Regions from separate parts of the Homo sapiens genome. Here regions 2, 3 and 4 are each linked to region 1. The links come from fine-mapping of genetic effects on gene expression. A gene starts in region 1. Each other region holds a variant in brackets. All regions are shown on one strand. Distances are from middle to middle. Region 1 holds the start of CCDC154 (coiled-coil domain containing 154). Region 2 holds the start of CLCN7 (chloride voltage-gated channel 7). Region 3 holds the start of UNKL (unk like zinc finger). Region 4 overlaps CLCN7 (chloride voltage-gated channel 7).

What was found. PIP is the estimated chance that this variant, and not a neighbour inherited with it, causes the effect.
Region 2: its variant is fine-mapped to the expression of CCDC154 in breast (GTEx, PIP above 0.99).
Region 3: its variant is fine-mapped to the expression of CCDC154 in monocytes after R848 (Quach 2016, PIP 0.95).
Region 4: its variant is fine-mapped to the expression of CCDC154 in whole blood (INTERVAL, PIP 0.98).

What each region holds. Positions count from the first base shown.
Region 1 is chr16:1,440,437-1,447,700 of GRCh38, reverse strand. CCDC154 (coiled-coil domain containing 154) reads left to right here and starts at 3,145. Exons shown (of 17, transcript NM_001143980.3): 1 at 3,145-3,385; 2 at 3,689-3,905; 3 at 4,006-4,195; 4 at 4,400-4,440; 5 at 4,726-4,821; 6 at 5,172-5,295. The coding sequence starts at 3,379. CLCN7 (chloride voltage-gated channel 7) reads left to right here. Exons shown (of 25, transcript NM_001287.6): 22 at 1-46; 23 at 133-309; 24 at 615-695; 25 at 984-2,766. The coding sequence ends at 1,070.
Region 2 is chr16:1,471,394-1,478,657 of GRCh38, reverse strand. It overlaps CLCN7 (chloride voltage-gated channel 7), which reads left to right and starts at 3,630. Exons shown (of 25, transcript NM_001287.6): 1 at 3,630-3,824. The coding sequence starts at 3,684. It also overlaps the pseudogene RPS3AP2. RefSeq lists silencers at 3,208-3,557, 3,678-3,887 and an enhancer at 3,127-3,670. The variant C/GCGCC (reference allele first, on the strand shown) is at 3,885.
Region 3 is chr16:1,413,333-1,420,596 of GRCh38, reverse strand. UNKL (unk like zinc finger) reads left to right here and starts at 5,893. Exons shown (of 15, transcript NM_001372107.1): 1 at 5,893-5,982; 2 at 6,542-6,751. The coding sequence starts at 5,906. It overlaps UQCC4 (ubiquinol-cytochrome c reductase complex assembly factor 4), which reads left to right. Exons shown (of 2, transcript NM_001272051.2): 2 at 1-845. The coding sequence ends at 351. RefSeq lists enhancers at 87-136, 147-216, 4,694-5,267, 5,268-5,842, 5,843-6,417 and 2 more and silencers at 5,489-5,558, 5,609-5,728, 6,269-6,318, 6,749-6,898. The variant T/AT (reference allele first, on the strand shown) is at 3,485.
Region 4 is chr16:1,463,502-1,470,765 of GRCh38, reverse strand. CLCN7 (chloride voltage-gated channel 7) reads left to right here. Exons shown (of 25, transcript NM_001287.6): 2 at 5,428-5,499. Among named protein-coding and RNA genes, the nearest start is that of CLCN7, 7.9 kb to the left of the region's middle. The variant TTTG/G (reference allele first, on the strand shown) is at 3,840.

The sequences.
Region 1 (7,264 bases):
GGGCCTGATCCTGCGCTCCCAGCTCATCGTTCTCCTAAAGCACAAGGTGCGTGCCAGGCTCCGGGCCATTGGGCGGGTGGGGGCCCCGGGGGTGCTGCCTGGGTGCCTGACACAGGGCTCTGCCGCCCGCAGGTGTTTGTGGAGCGGTCCAACCTGGGCCTGGTACAGCGGCGCCTGAGGCTGAAGGACTTCCGAGACGCCTACCCGCGCTTCCCACCCATCCAGTCCATCCACGTGTCCCAGGACGAGCGGGAGTGCACCATGGACCTCTCCGAGTTCATGAACCCCTCCCCCTACACGGTGCCCCAGGCATGTGCAGGGCATGGGCATGGGCGTGGGGCCTGGGACTGAACAGCAGGGGGTGGGGTCCAGAGCCTCGGGGAGGGGCAGCCGGGGGGGGCCACAGCGGAGAGGACTCGGTGACTCTGTCTCCTGTGAAGGGCCTGGCAGGCTTTAGAGCTGAAGTCAAGGGGCTGAGGGGGCTGGCCAGACGGGCGTGGGGGCTCAGGACGTGCCTGGACGCCGTGGTGGGGGGTGCAGGGAGCCAGCTTGGGTGAGGGTCCCGCCTGCCTCTGCTGTGTGGGCGGGCACTGACAGCTGTGCCCCTGCTGCAGGAGGCGTCGCTCCCACGGGTGTTCAAGCTGTTCCGGGCCCTGGGCCTGCGGCACCTGGTGGTGGTGGACAACCGCAATCAGGTGAGCGGGGGCGGTGGGGGTGCAGGCATGCCGTGCAGGGCTCCCCTCTGCCTCCTGCCCGTGCTTACTCTCAGCTCCCGGCAGGGGACACGGAAGCACAGGACCCAGCACCGAGTCGGCCCATGCCCCATGGCTGCACCCCTCCCCAGCCCCGTGCTCAGCTCGGGGGCTGTGCTGAAGCCCCCAGGGCCCCCTGCCTGTGCTGCCCCAGCCACACACAAGGCAGGGAGCTCCACAGGCAGGCGGGAGCCGACCCGTGTGTCACTGTGGCCTGGACTTGTCCTGCAGGTTGTCGGGTTGGTGACCAGGAAGGACCTCGCCAGGTACCGCCTGGGAAAGAGAGGCTTGGAGGAGCTCTCGCTGGCCCAGACGTGAGGCCCAGCCCTGCCCATAATGGGCACTGGCGCTGGCACCCCGGCCCTTCTGCATTTCCTCCCGGAGTCACTGGTTTCTCGGCCCAAACCATGCTCCCCAGCAGTGGCAATGGCGAGCACCCTGCAGCTGGGCGGGCAGGCGGCAGGCGCGGAACTGACCCTCTCGCGGGACTGACCCTGTTGTGGGCAGTGGTCTCCCCCCTTGGCGCCTCCTTGCGCAGGCCCAGCCTCCACTCTCCTCGTCTAGGTTTCTTTACCTCCAGGGATCAGCTGTGTGTGTGTGACCTCCCTACCGGGCTATCGGCCTCTTGGGAGCCAGCGGCAGGGCCGGCACCTGCGTGCCTGTGCCCGTGTGCGTGAGACAGAGCCCTTGCCCCTGCTGCTGCCCCGAGGGCTGCCCTGCCCTGGAAGGGCCCCTCTGCCTCCACACCAGTGGAGTCTTCGAGACTTGGGAGCTGCTTGGCCTCATTTTCAGCCATGAGCAGACGGCCTGTGGTCCCTGGGCCTGAGGCACGGACTCGTAGCACCAGGGTTTGGAGGCTGCGACCGCCCCGGAGAGCAGCTTCACACTGGCGCCACAGAGGAGCCCCACGTGCACTCCCCGGCCTGCATCCGGCTTGGGTACACAGGCCCAGAGGACTGGGGTGACTCACGGGCCCTGTGCTGTGATGTTGAGAGCTGAGAAAAACCTCCAAGGCCCTGAGCCCCATGCCCAGCCCTGCCTTGGTCCCCCAACCCCCAGAGCTTGGAGTCTGGGCCCCACACCCAGCCCTGCCTTGGTCCCTGAGCCTCAGAGCGTGGAATTGCTGCCCTGTGGACACTGGCTGGGAAGGCAGGTCTTCCCCTAGCACATGGGGACCCCGGCCTCGAGGGTGACCTCCCTACCCCGCCCCTGCCAGCCACCAAGCGCAGGTGCAGCGGGGGCCAGACTCCTGCCGGCCTCAGAGGACACCTGGCCCAGCACAGGCAGCTAGAAGGGCCGGTGGGCACCGGGGCCGGGAAGCCCCCACCTCACCACCTGAGGGCCCCTGGGAGGCTCCTCTGGCCTGGCTGGGCTGGGTCTGGGGCCGCCACAGGCCCCTCACGGGGCGGCAGAGGCAACTTCAGTGTCCCTGTTAGAGCAACACGGGTCCCTCCGTGGGGGGCTGGGTGCGGCCCCCTGCCGTGTATTTCCTCCCCAGGGAGTGGGGCCTCCCCGGGAGCTGACGCCACCACCCTGCTTAGCCCTCACAGGGCCCCAAGGTGTCCGAGTGTGTTGGGTCTGAACGCGAAATAAAGAAATCCTCTCAGCCCGCCTTTGCCAGCGTCGTCCCTCCCACCCCACCCAGACCACGTCCAACAGCCTGGGACTTTCGGGACCCTGGGGTCGGGGCACCGTGTGGAGTGAGAAAGGCGTGAAAGACAGCGGCTGCGGCCACCCAGGGCACCAGCCACATCCTCTTCCTCGTCCCCGCCCCTCAGCCTCCCTCCTCTGGCTCCTGGCTGGTGGGTCTGGGGGCAAGGCAGAGGCGCTCCAGGTGGAGGGGGGCGGGCCGGGGTGCCCACGCTGGGGTGACGCAAGAAGAAAACTCCCGGGCCTCAGAGTCGGCGCCGGAAACCTAGGTCTGGGTTTCCCTCGTGGTGGTTGTGTACTGAGGACCTGGAAGTGATCATATTTTGGATATATTCGGTTAAATAAAATCAGCGGTTAGGATTCACATCGCTGCTTCTTGCCTTTTAATGGGGCTGCTGAGCAAGATGGGTTCCCGTGGAGCCCGGCTGTGCCCCTCACCCCGATGGCGCTGCCCAGGCCTCGGGCTCCGCTCGGACGTGGGCCTGGCTGTGTCCGGGGTGTCCTGGGGCTCTCGGCCTCCCTGCTCCCAGCGTCCCTCCCGGCGTGCCCAGGCCTCGTCAGGGCCTCCTTCCCCTCCCTCGGCAGCTGAAGAAGTCCCCTTTGCCAGAGGACACGTGTCTGCGCCCTCTCGGGAGTGGGGCCCCTCAGATCCATCCAGAAGCAGGCAGTTGGGGGGCCCTGCGGGAGTGGGAGAGCTGAGGGCTAGAGTTCCATTGGCAGTTGGGCTGTGAAGCCGTGAGGTTCTGGGGAGAGAAGGAAGGTTCTGGAACGGCCCCGCTGCCCCACACCTGCCTCCCTGGGGACCCTGAGAAGGCAGCCAGACGAGGGCAGCAGCTCGTCCCTCAAGGCCCAGAGCTCTCACGGGACTTCCTCTGGCTCCTGACCCCCCTGGCCTGTGCCCAGCTCTGGGCAACCTCAGAGGCCCCAAGGCCCAAGCTACAGCCGAGGGCAGGGTGGCCGGTGCAGCCCAGCAGCCATGTCAGGTGACCAGAGCGGAGGAGCGGGGCCCAGGGAGGGGCTTGCCACAGGTGTGAGGGTGGGGACCGCTCTGCTTCTGACCCCGGGCTCCCTCCAGCTCGCTTGTTCCTGCCGCCCAGTGCTGTGTGTCTTCAGGCAGGGCCCTGGACTTGTCTGAGCCAAGCCCGTCTGGATCCTGTGTGACCCAAGGAGACGCGTTGAGCTCTGGGTGGTGGGCGAGGGTCCTGCGGGGGTTTGGGGCCTTGTTCCCGTAAGCTCCAGTGGGGGCCGGGCCCCAAGGGGCAAGCTCCCAAGATGCCTCCTTGTAGAGTTGGCTGACAGTGGACCCTCAGGGGCATCGGCCCCTTCCCAGCTGAGAGCCGTCACCCTGGAAGACCTGGGGCTCCTCCTGGCAGGAGGCCTGGCCAGCCCCGAGCCCTTGAGCCTGGAGGAGCTCTCGGAGAGGTATGAGTCCAGCCATCCGACATCCACGGCCTCTGTCCCCGAGCAGGACACCGCCAAGCACTGGAACCAGCTGGAGCAGTGGTGAGCCCTGCAGGGGGTGCTGGCGGGGGAGGACCACGTCGCCGCCGCCTCCGCCTCCACGGCGGGCACCGCCAGACTCGCCCACTCTCGCCCCGGCCAGGGTGGTGGAGCTGCAGGCCGAGGTGGCCTGCCTGCGGGAGCACAAGCAGCGCTGTGAGCGCGCCACGCGGAGCCTGCTGCGGGAGCTGCTCCAGGTGCGGGCCCGCGTGCAGCTGCAGGGCTCAGAGCTGAGGCAGTTGCAGCAGGAGGCGCGGCCGGCAGCCCAGGCCCCCGAAAAGGAGGCGCCGGAGGTGAGCGGCTCCCCCACCCACAGGTCGAGCTGCCCCTTTCCTGGGTGTTGGGGGCAGCTGCTTCTGGGCCTGGAGCCCAGCTCACCCCTGCTGCCCAGGCCCAGAGCTCCCAGGGGCCAGTGGTGCCGGAGCTGGGTGGACTCCAGGGGCAGGTGCCAGACCCGGGCCTAGGTCCAGCCCACAGCCTCCTCTTCCTCCTCGCAGTTCTCTGGTCTCCAGAACCAGATGCAGGCCCTGGACAAAAGGTACCCCCCACACACCTAGGGGCACAGGCCCAGGGCGGGGAGGTGGTGGCGAGAAAGCAGCGGCAGGTGTGGTGGGGGGTCCACATCTCCCGCTGGGTGTCGCTGGAGTGGGGGATACACATCCAGGTCCAGCTAGAAAAGGCCGGGTTTGTACGTGCCTGGGCGGCCTTCAGAGGCCCAGGAAAGCCATGGGAGGTGGCCACAGGGGCCCCTTGGCCAGACCCCCAGCCCGCCGAGGCTGCTCAGCCCGCCTGGGCCTCTCGGGAATGGCTTGTTGTGTCCCAGGCTGGTGGAGGTCCGGGAAGCCTTGACCCGGCTCAGGAGGAGGCAGGTGCAACAGGAGGCGGAGAGAAGGGGCGCCGAGCAAGAGGCCGGCCTCAGGTGGGCGCCCACCGCCCGTGGCTGGCTCCGGAGCTTGCGTGGGGTCATTTGAGAGTCCCTGGCTGAGCCAAGACACGGGTCCCCCTGCCGTGTGTCCCCAGTAACCCGGCGGGGCACCGCCCTCGGTGCCAAGCGTGCTGGGAAGCCTGGGCCCGCTGCGGACCCTCTGTGGGGAAGAGACTCGCAGCAGCCCTTCCCTGCCACCGGTGCTGTGTTTCCCATTCCTCTGTTTTCTGGTGGGGCAGGGGGCGGGGGTCGTACACCTCCTGCCTGGCCAGCCTGTGGGTCAGCCTCACCCTGCTGGGCCCTCCGGCCAGCTGGGCTGGTGTGACCACAGCCGACTTCTCTAGACTGGCCAAGCTGACCGACTTGCTGCAGCAGGAGGAGCAGGGCCGGGAGGTGGCCTGCGGCGCCCTGCAGAAGAACCAAGAGGACAGCAGCCGGAGGGTGGACCTGGAGGTGGCCAGAATGCAGGTACCACCAGGCCCAGGCTTCAGGGGGGCCGCCCAGAGGGCCGAGGAGGAGACCCTAACCCTCTCGGCCTGTGCCATCCGATACAGCGGCCGTTCACCATGTATCTGTGTCCACTGAAATCAGCTATAGTTGTAGACAATGTAAAACTCAATTCCTCAGCCGCACATGCCCCATTTCAAAAGTTCAGGTTGTTTGGGCACGGTGGCTCACGCCTGTAATCCCAGCACTTTGGGAGGCTGAGGCGGGCAGATCACAAGGTCAGGAGTTCAAGACCAGCCTGGCCAACATGGTGAAACCCCATCTCTACTAAAAATACAAAAAACTAGCCAGGTGTGGTGGCGGGCACCTGTAGCCTCAGCTACTGAGGAGGCTGAGGCAGGAGGATTGCTTGAATCCAGCAGGAGGAGGTCACAGTGAGCTGAGATCGCGCCACTCCAGCCTGGTGACAGAGTGAGACTCCATTTCAAAAAACAAAACAAAACAAAAAAACAAAAGCTCAGGCCACGTGCAGTGGCACACGCCTGTAAATCCCAGCACTTTTGGGAGGCCGAGGCGGGAGGATCGCTTGAGCCTGGGAAGTCAAGACCAGCCTGGGCAACACAGCGAGACCTCATCTCAAAAAAAAGCTCAGTTGCCACGTGGGGCCGGCAGCTGCAGATCTGGGCGCTCTTCGTCCCAGGAAGCTGCCTGTGTCCTGCCGCCTCCACCCCTCCCCACACAGCCAGCGCCTGCCCGGGTCCACAGATCGCAGCCCCGAAGCCCCTTCCACGGCCACTCTCGGGCTCCACCTTTCCCTGCACACAAAGCGGAGTTCACCTTCCTCGAGGACACGAGTTCCTAGAAGCCAGGGTCCCACCCACGGGGCTGGAGTGGCTCCCCCTCCTGCTGTGGCCTCAGCAGGGGCCTCCGCTGTGGGTGGGGAGGGAACGGGCAGCTGCACATTTCAGCAGCCCGGGTCTGAGCTCCACAAATAGAGACCGGGGACTGCAGCCAGCTCCCGTGCGCATCAGGCAGTACGCTGGGTGAGGGGCCAGGACTGCCGGGGCACCCAGCTGCCACCCACATAGCTCCACTGCCCGGAGCCGGCAGCCTCCCTCTCACTGCCCTTCAGGAAGTTACTGAGTGGCCGTGTGGAGCAGGCAGGGGTGCTGGGCTGAGGATTCCCAAGGTGCCAGGTGTGGGGGAGCTGCCGCTCATGAGGGCGTCTGCCTTTCCCTGAGTCCGGGTGTCTGAGTGCTCTCTAGGGCCAGAGGCAGCAAAGCCAGGCCGACACTCGTTTTTTGTTTTGAGACAGGGTATTGCCTGGTTGTTCAGGCTGGAGCGTGGTGGTGCCATCACAGCTCACTGCAGCCTCAACCCCCCAGGCTCAAGTGATCCTCTTGCCTTAGCCTTCCCAGTAGCTGTGACTGCGGGCGCATGCCACCATGCCTGGCTAATTTTTTTTTTTTTTTTTTTAAGACGGAGTCTCCCTCTGTTGCCTGGGCTGGAGTGCAGTGGCACGATCTCGGCTCACTACAAGCTCCGCCTCCCACGTTCACACCATTCTCCTGCCTCAGCTTCCCGAGTAGCTGGGACTACAGGCGCCCACCACCACGCCCGGCTAATTTTTTTGTATTTTTAGTAGAGATGGGGTTTCACTGTGTTAGCTAGGATGGTCTCGATCTCCTGACCTCGTGATCTGCCCATCTCGGCCTCCCAAAGTGCTGGGATTACAGGCGTGAGCCACTGCGCCCAGCCCGCCTGGCTAATTTTTTGATGTTTTGTAGAGACGGGGTCTCACTGTGTTGCCCAGGCCAGTCTCAAACTCCTGGGCTCAAGTGATCCTCCTGCCTCAGCCTCCCAAAAAGTTTTCTTTTCTTTTCTCTTTTCCTTTCTTTTCTTTTTTCTCTTCTCTTCTCTTCTCTTCTCTTTTCTGTTCTCTTCTCTTCTCTTCTCTTCCCTTCTCTTTTCTTTTCTGAGATGGAGTCTC
Region 2 (7,264 bases), 31 kb before region 1:
CTTTGGGCATACACCCAGTAAGGGGATTGCTGGGTCAAATGTTAGTTTGGTTATCAACATTCAAAGCCTGAATTTTAAACAGGTTGTTGGGCTGGGGGCTCATATCCGTCAGCTCATTCACATTTAGCACTGGTCTCATCCCCAGTAGCTTTTCCAGGACAGCGACCTTCACCACAAAGCTTGAGTTTTCCCAATGCAAGCCTGGGCTTCCCAAGCATTTTTACTTTTCTAAGGAAGACATCCTGGAGAGGATACCTGGATAGACTGGGGAACCTTCTCTGTGTCTCTCCCAGTGCTGTCTAGCATCAATTCATGGGCCACTTCTTTCGAGTAATTTGTCTGCACCTCTTGGGCCATGATTTCCACCATCTTTTCTGGATTTGACGGGCCTGCCAGTGCTGCCTGTGAGAGGTCTTCCCAATCTGCTTGCTGCACTGTTTTAGTAAAAGCAGCACAGAACAGATGAGGCAAATGATCATCTGTAGTTTTGACAACCATATGAGCTTCAATCATGGTCTTTTTTTTTTTCCATGAAAGCTGGTCAGGCTGTTTTTGCACTGAACATCCTCAGTGATTAGCTTGAATTTTCCAGATGCAACTTCACCATTCTGCAGATGAGCAGTACTGACTTCAAAAACACGGCCCTTGAGGCCATCGGGTGTGATTTTGGTTCCTGACGTCCCTGTGCCTGGTGTTTTCCATACTCCTTATGCCAAGCACAGCTGGTGCTTTCGCCTCATGCCAGTCTCTCTCAGACAGTGGACCAACCTCTTTCTTCTTGGCTCCCTTCCTGCCACTTCGGTTAAGGTGCTCGTTCTTGCCTGCTGCATGGTGGTGCAGACAGCCAAGGGCCAGATGTTAACATTGCCATTTTCCCTCCCTCTCAGAAGGCTGCTACTCATTATGATTATTGTCAGGTTTTGAATTGTCCGAGTGTAAGCTGCAGACATAGCAACACAAGGTCCCAAGTATTTCAGTATGTATCTCCTAAGATCGGGGAGCTTTCCTGACGTAACCACAATATAATGATCACGCGTGGGAGATTTACTACTGCTCCAACACCGTTAGCTCATACAGTGTATGTCCAATCTTTGCCAATTGTCTCAACCATGCCAGACCCACGTGAGGTTGTCTCCTCAGCCTCTCTTTGTCTCTTTCACAATACTGACATTGTGGAAGAAGATGGCCTAGATGTTCAGCAGGCTGTCCCTCAAAGTGGGATTATCTGGTGTTTCCCCTTTATGAGTGGACTCAAGGTGAGCATGTTTTGCAGGAATGCTCCGGAAGGGACGTTGTGTCCTTCCTGGTGCATCACATCAGGAGGCACACGATGCCACCTTATCCCATCACCAGCAATGCTGAACTGGGTTGCTTGGTTCAGGTGGCGCCTGCTAGGTTTCTTTTTTCCCTTCACCGTTAAGAAATGCTGACCCTGGGCCGGGCACGGTGCCTCATTCCTGTAATCCCCGCACTTTGGGAGGCCAAGGTGGGTGGATCACCTGAGGTCAGGAGTTCAAGACATGCCTGGCCAACGTGGAGAAATCCCATCTTTACTAAAAATACAAAAATTAGGCCTGGCGCCATGACTCATGCCTGTAATCCCAGCACTTTGGGAGGCCAAGGCAGGCGGATCACAAGGTCAGGAGATTGAGACCATCCTGGCTAACACGGTGAAACCCCGGGTCTACTAAAAATACAAAAAATTAGCCGGGCGTGGTGGCGGGCGCCTGTAGTCCCAGCTACTTGGGAGGCTGAGGCAGGAGAATGGCGTGAACCCGGGAGGCGGAGCTTGCAGTGAGCCAAGATCACGCCATTGCACTCCAGCCTGGGCAACAGAGCGACACTCTGTCTCAAAAAAAACCAAAAGGAAACAAAAAAAAGAAAAATTAGCCAGGTGTGGTGGCGGGTGCCTGTAATCTCAGCTACTCGGGAGGCTGAGGCAGAAGAATCATTTGAACCCAGGAGGCGGAGGTTGCAGTGATCCAAGATAGCGCCATTGCACTACAGCTTGGGTGACAAGAGTGAAACTCCGTCTCAAAAAAAAAAAAAAAAAAGAAGGAAAAAGAAAAAAGAAATGCCAACCATGGCCGGGCATGGTGGCTCATACGAAGAGTCCTAGCAACTCAGGAGGCTGAGGAAGGAGGATCCCTTGAACCCAAGAGGTCAAGGCTGCAGTGAGCTATGATCTTGTCATTGTACTTCAGCCTGGGTGACAAAGTGAGACTGTGTCTCAAAAATAAAAAAATAATAATAATAATTTAAAAAAAGGCCGGGCACCGTGACTCACGCCTGTAATCTCAGCACTTTGGGAGGCCGAGGCGGGTGGATCACGAGGTCAGGAGATCGAGACCATCCTGGCTAACACAGTGAAACCCCATCTGTACTAAAAATACAAAAAATTAGCCGGCCATGGTGACGGGCGCCTGTAGTCCCGGCTACTCGGGAGGCTGAGGCATGAACCCGGGAGGCAGTGAGCCGAGATTGGGCCACTGCACTCCAACCTGGGCGACAGAGTGAGACTCCGTCTCAATAATAAAAATATCGACCTTTTAAAAGGAAGAGGATGAGGCACAAAATATAAAGAGTTTACTCTAGAGGCTAACGTGGAAGGATCACTTGAGGTCAGAAGTTTGAGAACAGCCTGGGCAACACACTGTGAGCTCCACAGCAAAAATTAGCCGGGTGTGGTGGTGCAGGCCTGTGGTCCCTGTTACTCCAGAGGCTGAGGCGGGAGGATGGCTTGAGTCCAGGAGGTCAAGGCTGCACTGAGCTGTGACCGCACCACCGCACTCCAGCCTGGGCGACAGAAGGAGACCCTGTCTCAAAATAAATAAATAAATGACCCAGAAGGTGGGGACAGGGTGGGGGCTGATGTAAAGCTGTCAAGAATTCTCTTTGGTTTATGGAAATACCATTGATTAGTGATGGGCTGTGCCCTGGTGCGGGTACAGGGTCCGGGCGGCTATTTGGCTAATTCACAGCTATCTGCGTAGTAGCCGGCAGTTTCCAGAGGCGACCCTCCTGTACTGTCTCTGGGGCCTGATCGTTGAAGAGGACTCGCCTTCTGTTCTTTTCTCATTAGGCGGGAGGACCCTCTGGGGCTGCCTGGAGGAAGCCTCCACTCCGACCCTCGCCCGAGTGCCTACTGCGAGGGCGGATGCATGCTTCGGGACTTCTAATTTCATCCTTCACGTCTTTAGCCGCCGCCTATGGCAAGGAAAGGCCTGCCCTCGCCCCTGCCTCCCTCCTCCCTTCCCCACCGCGGCTCCGTCACGATCGGCGCGGGCGACCGGGCCTGGGGGAGCCCCTCCAGCCGGCTCCTGCCCTCAGGCCCCGGGCGCTTCCCTCGCCCCGACTCCCGGGCCCGAGGTCCCGGGGGCGGCCATTCGCCTCCCAAGCACTCGGCGCTCAGCCCAACGGGGCCGCCTTTGCAGTCGCGTGGGCAGAACGGGGTCCTCAGGGCCGCGGCGATTCTCTAGGGCGGGCGGCGCCACGACCCGCCGGGAGCGCGGCTCCCAGGAGCCCCCGCGCGACCGGGCCTCGGTGGTTGCCGTTGCAGGTCACATGGTCGCCGTCGCTCATCACGTGGCCCCGTCGCGCGTCACGTGGCCGCCGGCGCGGGTCACGAGAACAAACACGGGGGCAGCCGGCGCTTCCCGGCCGGTGTCGCTCCGCGGCGGGCCATGGCCAACGTCTCTAAGAAGGTGTCCTGGTCCGGCCGGGACCGGGACGACGAGGAGGCGGCGCCGCTGCTGCGGAGGACGGCGCGGCCCGGCGGGGGGACGCCGCTGCTGAACGGGGCTGGGCCTGGGGCTGCGCGCCAGGTGAGGCCGGGCAGGGCGCAGGCGGGGAAACTGAGCCCTCGTGCGCCCCGCAGCCCGCGC[C/GCGCC]CTCGTGAGCCTTCTGGCGGCGCCGCGTGTCTCGGTCCTGGAGGCGACCGAGGCGCGGTGGACTCGGGAACGCGCCCCGGGGCTCCTCGGCGGGGCCGGGCTGGCGGGGGCGCCTGGGGTCTGGAGTCTTCGGAGGCCGCGCCGGGCTCGGTGGCCGGGAGGGCTGCGTGGGCGAGGCGGAGCTCGCCAGACCCCGCGGAATGTGGGGCGCTGAGGGGCGCCGGGGCAGCCGTGGCGCACGTTCATTCCCTCCGGTGTCCCCCAGACTGGCCCTAAAGGGGTGCAAGTGGCTTTCTGTTCAGGTGACTTTTAAAAATTGTCATCCTACACGAGCAACTAATTTTGTTTGCGTTTTTGACCCCCTGGGAGATGGAAACAGTTAAGATTGCAGCCGGGTCACTGTCTTTCAGTGAGAATGACTGAGCGCCTTTATCTGCCATCTTTCTGTGTGGGGATCAGTCCCGACTTTCAGGTGATCTTGGGAGTGACGAGTATTTGTACTCAGTCTCCCTTCGCACCGAGTTGAATTTGCAATGTGCAGGCAAACACAATAAGCAGCAAGTCAGAGGTTGGAATGCGTTCCGCATGTCACCCTGCAGCGTGCGTCTGAGCAGTGTTAAGGTCTGGAGAACCGTTGCGGGTACATTTGTTTCCCTGTCTGTGTATTGTCTTAATATTTTTTTTTTTTTGAGACGGAGTTTCACTGTAGTTGCCCAGGCTGGAGTGCAATGGCGCGATCTCGGCTCACTGCAACCCCCACCTCCCGAGTTTAAGTGACTCTCCTGCCTCAGCCTCCTGAGTAGCTGGAATTACAGGCGTGCGCCACCGCGCCCGGCTAATTTTGTATTTTTAGTAGAGACGGGGTTCCTCCGTGTTGGTCAGGCTGGCCTCGAACTCCCGACCTCACGTGATCCCCCGCACCTCAGCCTCCCAAAGTGCTGGGATTACAGGCGTGAGCCACTGCGCCTGGCCGTATTGTGTTACTTTTGAGTTAATGGACCGTTTTGTTGATGGGTCTTAATCTGCTTTGCAGTTATTCTTTACATTTTCTCTTGTCTAGTCCTTTAAACACTTGTCTTGTGCTTAAAGATTAGGAAGGACGGCAGGGCACGGTGGCTCACATCTGTAATCCCAGCACTTTGGGAGGCCGAGGCGGGTGGATCATGAGGTCAGGAGATTGAGACCATCCTGGCTAATATGGTGAAACCCCGTCTCTACTAAAAATACAAAAAATTAGCCAGGCGTGGTGGCGGGCGCCTGTAGTCCCAGCTACTCGGGAGGCTGAGGCAGGAGAATCAATTGAACCCGGGAGGCGGAGCTTACAGTGAGCGGAGATGGCGCTACTGCACTCCAGCCTGGGCAGAGCGAGACTCCGTCTCAAAAAAAAAAAAAAAAAAAAAAAAGTTTAGGAAGGACACGAAAATCAGCCTGTTTCCATAGAACCTACATTTAGGTTTTCCCAATTCCTTAGAAACGCACCAGACAAAGAAGGTCATAGTCTGCCTTTTGCTGATAAGAAGCAGCAGCTCAGCTCCCTTTGAAGTGGGCCCTCCTGCTCTCCGTGCTGTAGTCTGCATGAAAAGTGATCTGAAGGGGTTAATTTGAAGTGATGGGGCCATGGGTGATTAGTTATTTGTGTGTATGCCTGTGTGTGTATGTGTATGCCTCTGTGTGTGTGTGTGTGTGTTTCTGTTTTAAAAGAAAGGCCAGGTGTGGTGGCTCATGCCTGTAATCCTAGCACTTTGGGAGGCCAAGGTAGGGGAGGATCACTTGAGCCCAGAAGTTCAAGACCAGCCTGGGCAAAATAGTGAAACCCTGTCTCAAAAAAAAAAAAACAAAATTAGCCAGGTGTGGTGATATGCATCTGTAGTCCCAGCTACTGGCTCGGGAGGCTGAGGCAGAGGAGTCGCATGAGCCCAGGAGGTTGAAGCTGCAGTGAGGTGCTTTTTTTTTTTTTTTTCCGAGGTAGTTTGTCACTCTTTTGCCCAGGCTGGAGTTTGAGAACCTATCTCAAAAAATTTAAAAAAAATTTTTTTAATTAAAGAAATCTGAAGTTCACAAGGTAGAAGGAATAAACCCAACTTTAAGGGCTGAAAGGTAAAGATTAGGAACCTTGATGGAGGTTGAATTTGAGTTTCTCTTGGGACTGAATGTGCTTGGGGTTTCCTGTCTGTCTTTGCAAATAGAAGAGTTGATTTTTTGGGAAATAATCTGTTGATCTCTTAACCTTAGAAAGTATTCCCGGCTGTGCACGGTGGCTCATGCCTGTAATCCCAGCACTTTGGGAGGCCGAGGCAGGTGGATCACCTGAGGTCAGGAGTTCGAGACCAGCCTGGCCAACATGGTGAAACCCCATGTCTACTAAAAATAGAAAAATTAGCCGAGTATAGTGGTGAGCGCCTGTAATCCTAGCTAGTCAGGAGGCTGAGGCAGGAGAATCGCTTGAACCCAGGAGGCAGAGGTTGCACTGAGCCGAGATCACGCCATTGCCTGGGCAACAAGAACAAAACTCCATCTCAAAAATAAAAATAAAAAAACTATTCCCTTAAAAGTCATTGTAAGCTTATTTGTTTGTTTGCATTTAATAACAGCGGATACTCTGCTTACAAGCAATTTAAAAAATAGTTTATCGTGCACTTGCTCTGTGGCTGCCTGGGACGCAGGCGCATAAAGCTGCTTCCTTCCTGCTGGAGACAGGCCCAGTGCCCTGTGCGGATGGTCTGCAGGGCCCCTGGGGCAGGAGCAGTCACAAGGCTTGGGCTTGAAGAGCACAAGATCTTCAGGCAGGCGGACGGGGGGAAAGGACAGAGGGAGTGTGTGTTTGGGATGCGCTGTGGAGCCTGGAGGTCAGCCCTGCTGCGCACATGAACAGGCTTTGAATTTGGCTCATCTCTAGGGGAGCCCATGGGAAGCTAGGACCCCATTCCTGAAGGGCCCCAGCCTTCCCCTGCAGACAGACTGGAGAGGCGGAGTCTAGAGGCCAAGACACCACCTCTTAGGCCAGGCGTTTGTGCTCTGAGCATCGGACTCGCCGATGGCCTCCTGCAAGGCCTGTAGCCTCCCTGTTGCCCAGTTTTCCCGTCTGCGAAAAAGTTAACGCATGCATAGCGCTGAGCACGGTGCCTGTCACAAACTACGCTCTGAAGAAACGTGAGTCGTGCCCGGTCGTGTTAAAACCAGCAACACAAGAGGGATTCGTGTTCGTTGTGACTTTCCTGTCCAACTTCCTGAGTAGCTACTGGATTTCTTGGTGCTGCTTTTCTGGGGGAGGGTCTGCTCTGACTGGTGGGCACAGCTCACAGTTAGGCTCAGGCGCACCCCAGTGTGGCCACAGACGGGGTACTGTAAGCTGCCCTTGGGTTCAAGGCCTCCAGAGCTGT
Region 3 (7,264 bases), 27 kb after region 1:
AGGCTCATAGGCTGGGCTTCCCGAAGCCTTCATCCGTTGCCCGGTTCCCGGGATCGGGCCCACCCTGCCGCCGAGGAAGAGGACGACCCTGACCGCCCCATTGAGTTTTCCTCCAGCAAAGCCAACCCTCACCGCTGGTCGGTGGGCCATACCATGGGAAAGGGACATCAGCGGCCCTGGTGGAAGGTGCTGCCCCTCAGCTGCTTCCTCGTGGCGCTGATCATCTGGTGCTACCTGAGGGAGGAGAGCGAGGCGGACCAGTGGTTGAGACAGGTGTGGGGAGAGGTGCCAGAGCCCAGTGATCGTTCTGAGGAGCCTGAGACTCCAGCTGCCTACAGAGCGAGAACTTGACGGGGTGCCCGCTGGGGCTGGCAGGAAGGGAGCCGACAGCCGCCCTTCGGATTTGATGTCACGTTTGCCCGTGACTGTCCTGGCTATGCGTGCGTCCTCAGCACTGAAGGACTTGGCTGGTGGATGGGGCACTTGGCTATGCTGATTCGCGTGAAGGCGGAGCAGAATCTCAGCAGATCGGAAACTGCTCCTCGCCTGGCTCTTGATGTCCAAGGATTCCATCGGCAAGACTTCTCAGATCCTTGGGGAAGGTTTCAGTTGCACTGTATGCTGTTGGATTTGCCAAGTCTTTGTATAACATAATCATGTTTCCAAAGCACTTCTGGTGACACTTGTCATCCAGTGTTAGTTTGCAGGTAATTTGCTTTCTGAGATAGAATATCTGGCAGAAGTGTGAAACTGTATTGCATGCTGCGGCCTGTGCAAGGAACACTTCCACATGTGAGTTTTACACAACAACAAATGAAAATAAATTTTAATTTTATAATATGGGATTAGATGATTCCCTTTTTTTGCATCTAGTTTTTAAAAAGGGGGTATTTGGGCAGCTATTGTTTTTTATTTTAATCTCTTCTTGTTTACCAGAGCACGTAAGTTAGTTGCACCAGCAGCTATTTTTAAAAGTTTCCTTTTCCGGTCGGGCGCGGTGGCTGACGCCTGTAATCCCAGCACTTTGGGAGGCTGAGGCGGGCGGATCACGAGGTCAGGAGATCGAGACCATCCTGGCCAACACGGTGAAACCCTGTGTCTACTAAAAAATACAAAAAATTAGCCGGGCGTGGTGGCGGGCCCCTGGAGTCCCAGCTACTCCGGAGGCTGAGGCAGGAGAATGGCGTGAACCCTGGAGGCGAAGCTTGCAGTGAGTCGAGATCGCGCCACTGCACTCCAGCCTGCACGACAAAGCGAGACTCCGTCTCAAAAAAAAAAAAAAAGTTTCGTTTTCCTTTTTTTTTTTTTTTCCAGAGTGGGAACTGAGGAAAGAAACCTACATATATATTACCGAATAGTACCAGAAATGAGGAACTTTTGCAGTTTTCTGCAAAACTTTTTAAGCAAGGCAACCATTTTCTGAGTAGAATACAACTAGTGAGTATTTCTTTTCACAAATGATGGGCACTATTTTGGGTTACCTAAGTGATTGTTTTTTGTTTTTTTGTTTTGTTTTGTTTTGTTTTTATTTTTGAGACAGGGTCTCACTCTGTCTCCCAGACTGGAGTGCAGTGGCACAATTTTGGCTCACTGCAACCTCTTGTCTCCTGGGTTCAAGCAGTTCTTCTGCCTCAGCCTCCCGAGTAGCTAGAACTACAGGCTTGTGCCACCACACCCGGATAATTTTTAAATTTTCAGTAGAGACGGGCTTTTGGCATGTTGGCCAGGCTGGTCTCAAACTCCTGACTTCAAGTGATCTCTCCTCCTCGGCCTCTCACAGTGCTGGGATTACAGATGGGAGCCACCGCGCCCGGCCCCAGATTGTTTTCTCTTTTTTTTTTTGAGATTGAGTCTTGCTCTGTCACCTAGGCTAGAGTACAGTGGCTCCATCTTGGCTCACTGCAACCTCCACCTCCTGGGTTCAAGCGACTCTCCTGCCTCAGCCTCCAGGGTAGCTGGGATTACAGGCACGCACCGCCACACCCGTCTAATTTTTGTATTTTTAGTAGAGACGGGGTTTCGCCATGTTGGCCAGGCTGGTCTCAGATTCCTGACCTCAAGTGATCTGCCCGCCTTGGCCTCCCAAAGTTCTGGGATTATAGGCATGAGCCACTGCGCCCGGTCAATTGTTTTCATACATATATACCTATACATGTTTCAGAGACATGCAGCAGATCCCAAGTGCCTCCAGGGCAGCGATCTGGGAGGGCTTTTCCAGTTGCTGACCTCACACCTGTGCCGTAGACAGACCCAAGGCCAGCTGGGGATGGTGGGCGGATCTTCCCTACTCCTGGAGTTTTCAAAGGATGGCAACAGAGCAGGTTGATAGGTGAACAGTTAATTCAGTACAGTTAGTATTTATTATTATTTTTTGAGATGGAGTCTTGCTCTGTTGCCCAGGCTGGAGTGCAATGGTACAGTCTTGGCTCACTGCAACCTCCGCCTCCGGGGTTCAAGCAATTCTCCCGCCCCAGCCTCCTGAGTAGCTGGGATTACAGGCGTGCACCACCATGCCCGGCTAATTTTTCTATTTTTAGTAGAGACAGGGTTTCACCATGTTGGCCAGGCTTGAACTCCTGACCTTAGGCAATCTGCCCACCTCGGCCTCCCAAAGTGCTGGGATTACAGGCAGGAGCCACTGCGCCCAGTTGTATTTAACTATTTTTGTAGTGTGTTTGTCTTGTTTTCCCAACTGGGCTGTAGCTTTTATTTTCCCCAGGGTACATGGCACACTGACCTCCCCAGATAAGCATTTGAGAGGGAGACCATTGTAAGCATGCTAGAACAGACGCAGCTGCAGCGATTCCTAAGATGACAAATGGCTGGGCAGGAGGTGGAAATTGTTTTTTGTTTTTTTGTTTTTTTTTTGAGACGGAGTCTCGCTCTGTCACCCAGGCTTGAGTGTGGTGGCACGATCGCGGCTCACAGCAACCTCTGCCTCCCGGGTTCAAGCAATTCTCCTGCCTCAGCCTCCTGAGTAGCTGGGATTACAGGCGTGCACCACTGCGCCCAGCAATTTTTTTTTGTATTTTCAGTAGAAACGGGGTTTCACCATGTTGGCCAGGCTGGTCTTGAACTCCTGACCTCAGGTAATCCACCCACCTTGGCCTCCCAAAGTGTTAGGATTACAGGTGTGAGCCACTGCACCCAGCCGGAAATTGTTTTAAAACAAAAATTCTTGAACGGGCGCAGTGGCTCATGCCTGTAATCCCAGCACCTTGGGAGGCCGAGGCGGGCGGATCATAAGGTCAGGAGATCGAGACCATCCTGGCTAACATGGTGAAACCCCGTCTCTACTAAAAATAGAAAAAATTAGCCAGGCGTGGTGGCGGGCGCCTGTAGTCCCAGCTACTCAGGAGGCTGAGGCAGGAGAATGGCTTGAACCCGGGAGGTGGAGCTTGCAGTGAGCTGAGATCATGCCACTGCACTCCAGGCTGGGCGACAGAGTGAGACTCTGTCTCAGAAAAAAAAAAAAAAAAAAAAA[T/AT]TCTTTCAAGGAAGATGTTAACCAAACCATCTCAAAAACAAAAACAAAAAATTCTTTCAAGGAAGGTGTTAACCAAATGGTCACGTCTAAGCTGATGAACTGTCTATATAACTCAGGTACCACCCTAGACTTTAAAGAACATTTCTTCCAAAGCATGAAAAAACATGATACTTTCAATCCTTAAGTCTTACATCAGTTTCCTTTGATTTCTTCAAGGAAGATGCCCCCAGGGTGTGGAGGAACAGCAGGTGTCTTCACTCATACCTTTACAGCAAAGATCCCCAAATTCCTAAACCCTAAGGCTCCAAATCTGTTTCCTAGCTTTAGCAGGCTCCCTAGACACCTCTGCTGGACAGCTCACAGGCTCCTTAAACTCCAAAATGGAATTCATCTCCCCCAAACCTGTTTCTTCTCCCTTGCTCTGTATCCTTGCAAGCGAGAGACCTGGGCGTCACCCTAGACTCCCTTTCCATTCCTAGCACCTTGGGAGTCTTCAAGATCTGTTTATTCGTCTCTGAAGAATTTGCAGGCCCTGCCCTTCCTGCTTGACTTCATTTTCCTGCTTGACTTCACTTGAAAATATGTTCTTCATTATCATTTTAAGATTTAAATGTAATGTTTGTAGAGATAATTCATTAAGAAAATGTGATCCTGGCTGGCGCGGTAGCTCACGCCTGTAATCCCAGCACTTTGGGAGGCTGAGGCAGGTGGATCACCTGAGGTCGGGAGTTCGAGATCAGCCTAACTAATGTGGAGAAACCCCGTCTCTACGAAAAATAAATTAGCTGGGCGCGGTGGTGCATGCCTGTAATCGCAGCTACTCAGGAGGCTGAGGTAGGAGAATTCCTTGAACCTAGGAGGCGGAGGTTGCAACAGTGAGCCGAGATCGTGCCATTGCACTCCACTCTGGGCAACAAGAGCAAAACTCCTTCCTCCCCCCGCCCCCCGCCAAAAGAAAAAGAAAATGTGAACCTATGAAGAAATTTATCCTACCAGCAAATGATAGTTTTTGTTGTTTTACAGTATTAATATTAAAAAAAACCCTGAGATACTTGGAACAAATCTGTAGGAAGTGATTTGCTTTCAACCTAAATGGGCCCATTTTTCTTTTCGTTTTTTTTTTTTTTTTTTTTTTTTTTTTTTGAGACGGAGTCTCGCTCTGTTGCCCAGGCTGGAGTGCAGTGGCGCGATCTCGGCTCACTGCAAGCTCCGCCTCCTGGGTTCAAGTGATTCTCCTGCCTTAGCCTCCTGAGTAGCTGGGACTACAGGTGCCCACCACCACGCCCGGGTAATTTTTTTTTTTTTTTTTGTATTTTTAGTAGAGACGGGGTTTCACCGTGTTAGCCAGGATGGTCTCGATCTTCTGACCTCGTGATCCGCCCACCTCGGCCTCTCAAAGTGCAGGGATTATAGGCGTGAGCCACCGCGCCCGGCCAATGGGCACATTTTTCATATCACTAAAAATTTCTTTTTTATTTTTTGAGACAGGGTGTTACTCTGTCACCCAGGCTGGAGTGCAGTGGCGCAATCTCGGCTCACTACTAAACCTCCGCCTCCCGGGTTCACGCCATTCTCCTGCCTCAGCCTCCGGAGTAGCAGGAATTACAGGCGCAAGCCACCACACCCCACTAATATTTTTGTATGTTTAGTAGAGACGGGGTTTCACTGTTGGCCAAGCTGTTGTCAAACTCCCGAACTCAGCTGATCCGCCGGCCTCGGCCTCCCAAAGTGCTGGGATTACAGGCGTGAGACACCGCGCCCGGCCTCCTACCACTAAAAATTCTTCGGAAGCACTGTTTCAAATCACGCAGAGCACTTAGAGTTTTCCCTTTTCTCAGCTACTGCGCTGTTGGGGGAAGGGGGACCTCAAGTGTTTGCAAAATAACTGTGATAATTACCTTTGTAGATAAATCTCTGAGTATAAGTTTTTGAGGTCAAGGTTCGAAATGGAACAAATTCCTTTCTACAAAGGCCAGGACCCCTTGGCCCTTCCGCCCGGTGCCTGGCTCCCCCTGACATCAGCCTCTTGGTTCGTTTGTGGAAGAGCAGCTCTATTGAGATACAACTCTTGTGATTAATTCATGTAAAATACACGGTTATGTCGGGTCATGTCACAGCAGGGGCGACCATCGCGGGTCCCACGCGCGGCCCCGGGCAGGACCAGCGTCCCGGGCCGGGGGCTGCAGGGCAGGGCAGGGCAGGGCAGGGCAGGGCAGGGCAGGGCAGGGCAGGGCGGGGCGCGGGGCTGGGGCGGGGTCTGCGGGCCGGGGGCGGGGCTGCGGGGGGCGCGGGGCTGGGGCGGGGCCGGGGTCTGCGGGCTGGGGGCGGGGCCGCGGGGGGCGTGGCCGCGGGGGCGCGCGGGGATATCCGGGGGCGGGGGCGCCGGCGCGGCGCATGCGCGCTGCATTGTTTTGACTGAAAATGCCGTCGGTTTCGAAAGCGGCGGCAGCGGCGCTGAGCGGGTCCCCCCCGCAGACTGAGAAGCCGACCCACTACAGGTCAGCGCCCGTCCGGCCTGCGGCCCCCCGCCCGCGCCCGGTGCAGCTCGGAGCCTCCCGCCGGGGCTCGCGCCGCCTCCGCCGCCCCCGCGCCCCCCGGCCTCCGCGCAGCGCCTGGGCTGGGGGGGCCACGACCCTCTGCTCTCGGCGGCCTCCGCCTGAGGTCGGAGCGCGGCGCCCATGGTCTGGGATGGCACCTGGTTCCGGGGTCCACGCGCCTCTGGGGAGGGAGGAACGCCCCGGGGTTGGGGGTTGCGCCTGGGCTCGGGGACCGGGACCCTCTGCTCCGGCTGCCGACCGTGAGGTCACAGCGGGTCGCCCAGGGTCCGGGGTGGCGCTTGGGCTTGGGGACCAGGGTCAGCGCCTGGGCTACGAGGTCGGGTGAGGGTCGCGTCTGGAGTCGGGATGGGGGTGGGCGCAGCGCCTGGGGCCCGCCGGGAATGTGAGTACGGGTCGACCCTGGGTTGAGGCTCCTGAGGCCGGTGGGTCCCGCCGCCCACGAGTCCGAGTCCCTGGAGGTGCTGCCGGAAGCGAGCCGCGGCGCTGTCTGTGTTTGTAGGTACCTGAAGGAGTTCAGGACGGAGCAGTGCCCCCTGTTTTCACAGCACAAGTGCGCGCAGCACCGGCCGTTCACCTGCTTCCACTGGCACTTCCTCAACCAGCGGCGCCGCAGGCCCCTCCGCAGGCGCGACGGCACCTTCAACTACAGCCCCGACGTGTACTGCTCCAAGTACAACGAAGCCACCGGCGTGTGCCCCGACGGCGACGAGTAAGCGGCCGCGAGGGGGCGCCGCTGCCTGGGCGGAGGTGGGGGGCCTCCACCCGGGGATGCGGCCGGGACCCTCAGCGGACGCCTTAGTGTCCATACCTGGCCCCTGCAGAGGGAGTCGTAATTATACGCTGAAATTTTCTAGTGACCAGGGATGCTGGGGCGGCATTTCCTATTCTCAGGCCAGTTCCCGAGGGATTATGTGTGTTTTAGGGGTAACCCTTGTGTGACTCAAACCAATTTTGCTTCACCTCCCACTTTTTTTTGTTTGTTTTTTGAGACGGAGTTTCACTCTTGTTGCTCTGGCTGGAGTGCAATGGCATGATCTCGGCTCACTGCAGCCTCTACCTCCCAGGTTCAAGTGATTCTCCTGCCTCAGCCTCCGGAGTAGCTGGGATTACAGGCATGTGCCACCATGCCCAGCTAATTTTTTATTTTTAGTAGAGACAGGGTTTCTCCATGTTGGTTAGGCTTGTCTCGAACTCCCAACCTCAGGTGATCCACCCACCTCGG
Region 4 (7,264 bases), 23 kb before region 1:
CAAGGCTGCGGGGGAGGGTCTGGGGTCGTCGCCAGTGGCCCCTTGAGCTCTGCTGTACTTGAGGAAGTGCCCCTTGGTTCTTTTCTGGCCTCCAGGAAGTCCTCTGCCAGCCTGGGAGGGTTCCCCTGCTGTCCCCTGCCCTTCCCTGCCCTCCAGCATTGCTGTTCAGTGTCTGTCTTGCTTTAGGTCTCTGCCTTAACGCCATGGGGACACTGCATGGACAGCAAAGGCCTCTCCTTGGTCTCTGTGGCCTTTGTGTGTCACCTTGTTTCCTTTGACTGTAACCCCCATCCCCCCGCGGGGCAGCTGCTGTATCCTCTGTGCCTAGCGTCTAGCCTGGTCCTGGCAGAGGCCTGCTGAATGTTAGGACGCAACACAGGCCGAGCAGAACAGCAAATGGTCTTTAATCCTGCTTTAAGTTTTAAAAAAAACTGTGGTAAAGAACACATACCATAAATTTACCATTTTGAGCCAGGCATGGTGGTGCACGCCTCTCATACCAGCTACTTGAGAGGCCAAGGCGGAAGGATTATTTGAGCCCAGGACTTAGAGACCAGCCTGGGCAACATAGCAAGACCTTGTTTCTAAAAAACATTTTGTTTAATGACCGTTTAATCATCCGTGAGTGCAGTCAGTAGGGTTGAGCACGCTCTTAGTGTTACACAACCCATTCCTTGCCAAACTGAAACTGCACCCATTCAACGCTCTCCCTTCCTCCTGCTGCCCAGCCCCCTCGTTGCCATCTGCCTCAGGGGACCTGACGGCTCCAGGGCCCTCTTGCGAGTGGACCTGCGGGAGCTGTCTTTTTCTGACTGGCTTATTTCACGGGGCACAGTGTCCTCCGGCCCGTCGTGCTGCAGCACGGGTCGGTGGTCATTCCTCTTTATGGCTGAATTATTCCATTGCGGGGAGAGGCTGCATTTCCTTGACTCACTCATCCATCGGCACAGCAGGTGCTTCCGCATTTTGGTCATTGTGAACGGTGCTGCTGTGAACATGGCGTGCAAGTGGGACTTTCAGACGCTGCTTTTTTATGTTTGTTTTTGGTTTTTGGTTTTTTGTTTATTTTTGTTTTTGTTTTTGACGGAGTCTCCCTCTGTCGCCCAGGCTGAAGGGCAGTGGTGTGATCTCAGCTTACCACGACCTCTGCCTATTGGGTTCAAGTGATTCTCCTGCCTCAGCCTCCTGAGTAGCTGGGATTACAGGCGCCCACCACCATGCCCGGCTAATTTTTGTATTTTTAGGAGAGTTGGGGTTTCGCCACATTGGTCAGGCTGGTCTTGAACTCCTGACCTCAAGTGATCAGCCCGCCTCAGCCTCCCAAAGTGCTGGGATGACAGACGTGAGCCACCTCCCCTGACCCTGAGTTTTTTTATGTATTCTGAATATTAATCCCTTATCAGATATTAATTCCTTATCACATTTGCAAATATTTTCTCGTTTCATAGGTTACCTTTTGCTCTGTTGTTTTCTTTGATGTGTAGAAGTTTTAAAGTTTGATGTAGTTCCCCTCTATACATTATTTTGACTTTTATTTTGTTTTATTTTATTTATTTATTTGAGACAGGGTCTTGCTCTGTTGCCCAGGCTGGAATACAGTGGCAGGATCTCGGCTCACTGCAACCTCCACCTCCCGGGTTCAAGCAGTTCTCCTGCCTTAGCCTCCCGAGTAGCTGGGATTACAGGTGTGCACCACCATGCCCGGCTAATTTTTTTTTTTTTTTTTCGTTTTTTTTAAGTAGAGACGGGGTTGCTTCATGTTGGCCAGGCTGGTCTCGAACTCCTGACCTCGGGTGATCTGCCCGCCTTGGCCTCCGAAAGCGCTGGGATTACAGGCGTGAGCCACTGTGCCCAGCCCTTTTTTGACTTTTAAATCACTCTGGATTCACAGGAAGCAGCAAAGGTAGCACAGGGGGCTTGTGTACCCTTCACCGAGTTTCCCCCCAATGTTTACCTTTCCGTAACAGCGCAGCCCCAAAACCAAGAGAGTGTCGGTGCAATGCGTGTAGATCCGCGTAAGCACCAGGAAGGGGGTGCAGGCTATTTTCAGACCCATCTTTCTAGTCCCACCCACTCCCAACCCTGATGACCTCGCCTCCCGTCCGGCCCGAGTCTCGCCTCTCGGGAGTGTTGGCTCACGTGTTCCTGAGCCTGTCTGTTTTTAGTTAGTGTCCGGCGCTTGGGACCGTGTAGGTTGCCGTGTGTGGCAGGAGTTTGAGGAACAGCATCTAGTGTTTAATTTATAAGAGCTTGCATTTAAAAAAGAAAGTAACCGCACGGAATGCATTGCTGAACTTGAAGTAAACGTCGTGTTCTTCCATTACGAAAGCCACCTTCTCAAAGTCCTGGCAGAGTTAAGGAAAGAGATGCTGGGAAGGCAAGGCGCCGGAGCCCCATCCTTTCACTCCGGGCAGGGGCAGCTGATGCCCTGCTGGGGGGCAACCCCTCACCCCTCACCCCTCTCGGATCTGCCAAGGCGGCGGCGGTGGGGGTGGCCCGCTGGTCACATACTGCACCGGCAGCCTTCACCTTGGCCTGAATGCATGTGCGGCTCTGCCTGCTGCTGTGGGACAGTGCTGTCGTGGTGTAGACGGTGGCCCTCCTCAAGGCCTCCCAGGCCTGGCGCCCAGGACATGTGACTGTGGCTGTTTTCGTTTTGTTTGGGTTTTTTTTTTTAATTTTAGAGATAGGGTCTTGCCGTGTTGCCCAGGCTGGAGCGCAGTGGTGCAACCATAGCTCACTGTAGCCTCGACTTCCCAGGCTCAAGCGATCCTCTTGCCTCAGCCTCCTGAGTAGTTTGGGCCACAGGTACACGCCACCATGCCTTGCTGATTTTGATTTTTTGTAGAGACAGGGTCTCACTACGTTGTCCAGGTTGGCTTTGAACTCCTGGGCTCAAGCGATCCTCCTGCCTGAGCCTCCCAAAGTGCTGGGATTACAGGCGTGAGCCACCACGTCCGGCCAGAATGATCCGTTATTTCCAGCAAGGAATAGCCTGAGAAGCACGGCAGGCCTTGAGTGGCGTTAGAGAGAAGTGCTGACATCTTGAGTGATGGAGAGGGTGGCCCTCTGGGCAGGGTGTGTCCCACAGGGTGCCTGTTTGGACGTGGGGTCCTTCCTCATGGTGAAATGGGTCTTTTGGGTTCCGTGGTCTCTGTTTGGGGCATCGGGGCACCTGTCCACCTGGGAGGTGGGGGTCAGAGGCCCAGCGCTGGTCCCAGGGCTGTTTTCTGGTGGTGAGACCTGGAGTCCAGGGGCTTTGATGTGAGTGTGAGCAAGAGGGAGTGGGCAGCTGGCCAGGCCACTGCTTCCATCATGCCTGGACCGTGGCACCTTCCTCCTCCCACCGTCAGCCCGTGTGGCAGGAGACTCAAGCTGTGAGTTTCGCCTGTGACTGAGGGCTCAGGGAGAGCCACTGGCATGTGGCAAGGCTGGGGGAAGAGGAGGGGCAGGCGCCCTGTGACTCAGGGTTGTGTCCAGCAGGACCTGTGCACTCTAGCCCCTCCCACACTCTCCCCTGGGCGTGGAGATGCCACGGCAGACACCTGCGAGTCTGTCTGTCTGTCTGTCTGGCCTCTGCTCCTGGCTTTTGATGGGGATGGCCTGAGAGTGCTCTTTGCCTGGGGAGAGGAGGAGGCTCTGACTGGTGTCTGCCAAGGGCCAGTGGCACGTGCCCAGGTTCCTTCCCCTGCCAGGGCCACTTACCGGGTCATCAACACGGGGGGTGTACAGCAAGGGCGACGGTGGCTGGTAACAGGACGATGGTTGGGGAAGGGGTCCCTGGAGGGCAGTGGGCTGGAAGGTCAGGTTCTTTTTTTTTTTTTTTTTTTTTTTTTTTT[TTTG/G]AGACAGAGTCTTGCTGTTACCTAGGCTGGAGTGCAGTGGTGCGATCTCAGCTCACTGCAGACTCCACCTCCCGGCTTCAAGCGATTCTCCCGCCTTAGCCTCCCAAGTAGCCCGCCTACTTTTTGTATTTTTAGTAGAGATGGGGTTTCGCCATGTTGGCCCAGCTGGTCTCGAACTCCTGGCCTCAAGTGATTTGCCCGCCTCAGCCTCTGAAAGTGCTGGGATTACAGGCATGAGCCACTGTACCCCGCCGGGAAGGTCTGGTTCTGAAGGCAGTTTCTGGGATGGCGGTTTGGGGAGCCCGTCTCCTTCAGGGGTGAGCACTCCAGAGAAAGCAGGACCCCCACCCCTGGCTCGCAGTGACCTCAGATCCCAAACCTTCCTTCTCTGCTTCTGTGTCCTTGCCTGTGTGTGGTAATCGTGATCCCCGTGGATAGGTGGAGGTTGAGGGAAAACTGGGCCCCAGTGCAGGCCGTTCCTGCACGTCTCCCCGTCCCCACCTCGGCCCTGTGGGCTCCTGGCGCCATCACCTGCCGTTCTATCACCAAGAAGCACTTCCAGGCCCTGCTGAAACCTGGTGCGGGAGGCCGAGCCTGAGGAAGGTGGAGGGAGAGATGGGGGGATGAGGAGGGGACGGCGTTGGGGGCCGGGAGGGCTGCTCCCAGGGAAGGCGGGCGGCAGCCTCGTTGGTCTTCCCACGGCCGGTACCAGCCGCTGGACTCCTCCGCCAACACTTTCCTGACAGGCGCACGGGCTCTCTGATGCAGATGGCGGGCGCCCTGCGCATGCGGTCCCTCCACCTGGAAGGCAGCCCTTCTTCCCTTCATGTCCCCAGATGTTGCTAAAGATTCAGGAGATAGTGGAAATTGGAGTCGTCTCCAAAGGATCTCTTTGGGGAAAGGAGGCTGAGGTCTTGGCTCCTCCTAGCCTGGCCTCAGCGCCTTGGCTCTAGTAAGGAGCCGGAGACTGGGGTGGGAGCTCCGTAAGTCACATCTGCACCACGCCACCCAGGGCCCGCTGCCCTGCCCCTGCCCTGAGCTGGGGCGGCCGCAAAGCCTTAGGTGGCTGAGACCCCACCCAGCTCTGCCTGACAGCTGGGCGTCCTGTGGGGAGGGCAGCGTGAACACTGTGGAGCCGTTTGTGTCTCAAGACCCAGAGAGGCTGCAGTGGAGGTGACTCTGTGGAGGTGGCAGGTGGCTGAGCAGGGCCTCGGGAGCAGGGTTGGGCAGGATGGCCCAGGGTGCTGTGGCGGGCACTGCATTGGGGGCGGCGTGTTGTCCAGCCCTTCTTTCCTGGTGGGTGGCAGGTGCCTCGCTTTCAGTCTAGAGCAGGGAGCTTGCGCCCTGGACTCGGGCTGGACGTGTCGCTGACAGGCCGAGGGGCAGCCGGATCAGTTCTGCTTCCAGGGCCCAGGGAGGCCCGTCCCAGCCCTGCTGCCCCCACCCAGCAGGCAGGCCTGGCCTAGCCCATTCCTGAGCTCCCGGGCAGGGTCAGGCGAGGCCAGGGTGCGGCGGCGGGAGTGAGAATCCACGGAGCAGAGCGTGCGACGCCTGAGCGCCCTCATGATTTCTCTTCTGCTTTTAGTCACCACGTTCTGCGCTTTTCCGAGTCGGACATATGAGCAGCGTGGAGCTGGATGATGAACTTTTGGACCCGGTGAGTTGGGGGTGTTCCCCGTCCTCCCGCAGAGCTAGCTGCATCTTAGCAGAGGGTGACAGGGATGGGCACGGGCCGAGCGGCAGGGAGATAGTGGGGCCCCAGGGCCGGGGTTCAGGGAAGATTTCCTTGGGGGGACATGGTCCCTGACGCCAAGTGAGCAGAGGCAGCTGGGCAGAAGTGCTCTCAGACGGAGGAGTGCAGGGCGCAGGAAGCCGGTCAGGACAGCAGTGACAGCATGGGCAGCGAGGGGGCTGGACCTGGCTTTGGGACAGGGCAAGGACAGGGATCTTGGGGGGGCAGTGAGGAGCCCCAGGAGAGTGAGAGGGGGCCGGATGCCTCTGACTTCAGAGGGCAGGGGTTTAGATGTTCCCGTGCCAGTGGCTGCCCTGGGAGTCCTGAGCTCAGCGGCAGCGTGCTCGTCTTCCTTCCCCTCGGGGGCATCTCCCGCCGGCCTCGGTTTTTCCCCCAGCCGCTGGTGAGGCCGGGAGTCCTCTGCTGCCGCTGGCCGTTCACTCATCGTCTCTGGGTAGATGTCTGTGCGGGACTCCTGTTGAGATGATCCTGATGTTGGCAACACCCCGGGCGTCCTCCTTCTCCCCATCAGGCCCCACCTGGCTCTGCCCTGGGCCACGTCAGAGGCTGAGGCATCTCACAGTCCACCTGTCCGGGTGCTCTTCGGCCTTGCGTCCGTTTGAGCTCTGCCGCAGTCGCTCCCGAGGCCGGCGCCGTGCTCAGATGCCGTCCTGTACAGCCAGCAGCGCCTCTTCCGGGGCTGCCCTTCTGATACGTTTGTGCTGCCTCTGGAGCCACAAGGCCTTCGGAAGATCTGTTTCGTGGCCGTGGGCGCCTTCGGCACTGCCTTTTTGGACTTCAAAGCCTTTGCTCTGGTGTCAGCTTTGGGAGGGGCAGGAGTTGGGAGAGAAGGGAAAAAGCCAGCACGTGAGATTCAGCAATCAGTCCTCTCCTGTCTCAACCCTGGAGCGGGTGCCTGGCCGGCCACACGCGTGTTGGTTATGCTCATTTTTAAACTGGGTTTGTTGTCTTTATAATTGAGCTGCAGGAGTTCTTTATACATAGATGCAAATCTCTCATCCAATACATGATTTATAGAAGTTTTCTCCCGTTCAGTGGGTTTTCTGTTCACTTTCTCAGTGGTGTCTTTTGTTGCTCAAATTTATTTAATTAAAAAAGTTTTGGCCAAGGGAGGTGATTCGTGCCTGTAATCCTAGTACTTTGGGAAGCAGATGGATTCATTGAGCTCAGGAGTTCAAGATCAGCCTGATCAACATGGTGAAACCCTGTCTCTACAAAAAATATAAATATTAGCTGGGCCTGGTGATAGGCACCAGTAGTCCCAGCTACTTGGGAGGCTGAGGTTGGAGGATCACTTGAGCCCAGGAGGTGGAGGTTTCAGTGAGCTGAGATGGTGCCACTGCACTTCAGCCTGGGTGACAGAGTGAGATCCTGCCTCAAATTTTTTTTTTTTTTTCTGGGCAGGTGTGGTGGTTCACACCTGTAATCCCAACACTTTGGGAAACCAAGGCTGCAGCCCAGGATTTGGAGATCAGCCTAGACAACACAGTGAGACCCTGTCTCTACAAAAAACAAAAACAAAAACGAAAATTAGCCAGGTGTGGTGGTGTGCGCCTGTGGTCCCAGCTACTCAGGACGCTGAGGCAGGTGGATTGATCGAACCCAGGAGGTTGAGGCTGCAGTGAGCCATGATCACACCATTGTACTTCAGCCTGCGTGACAGACGGGA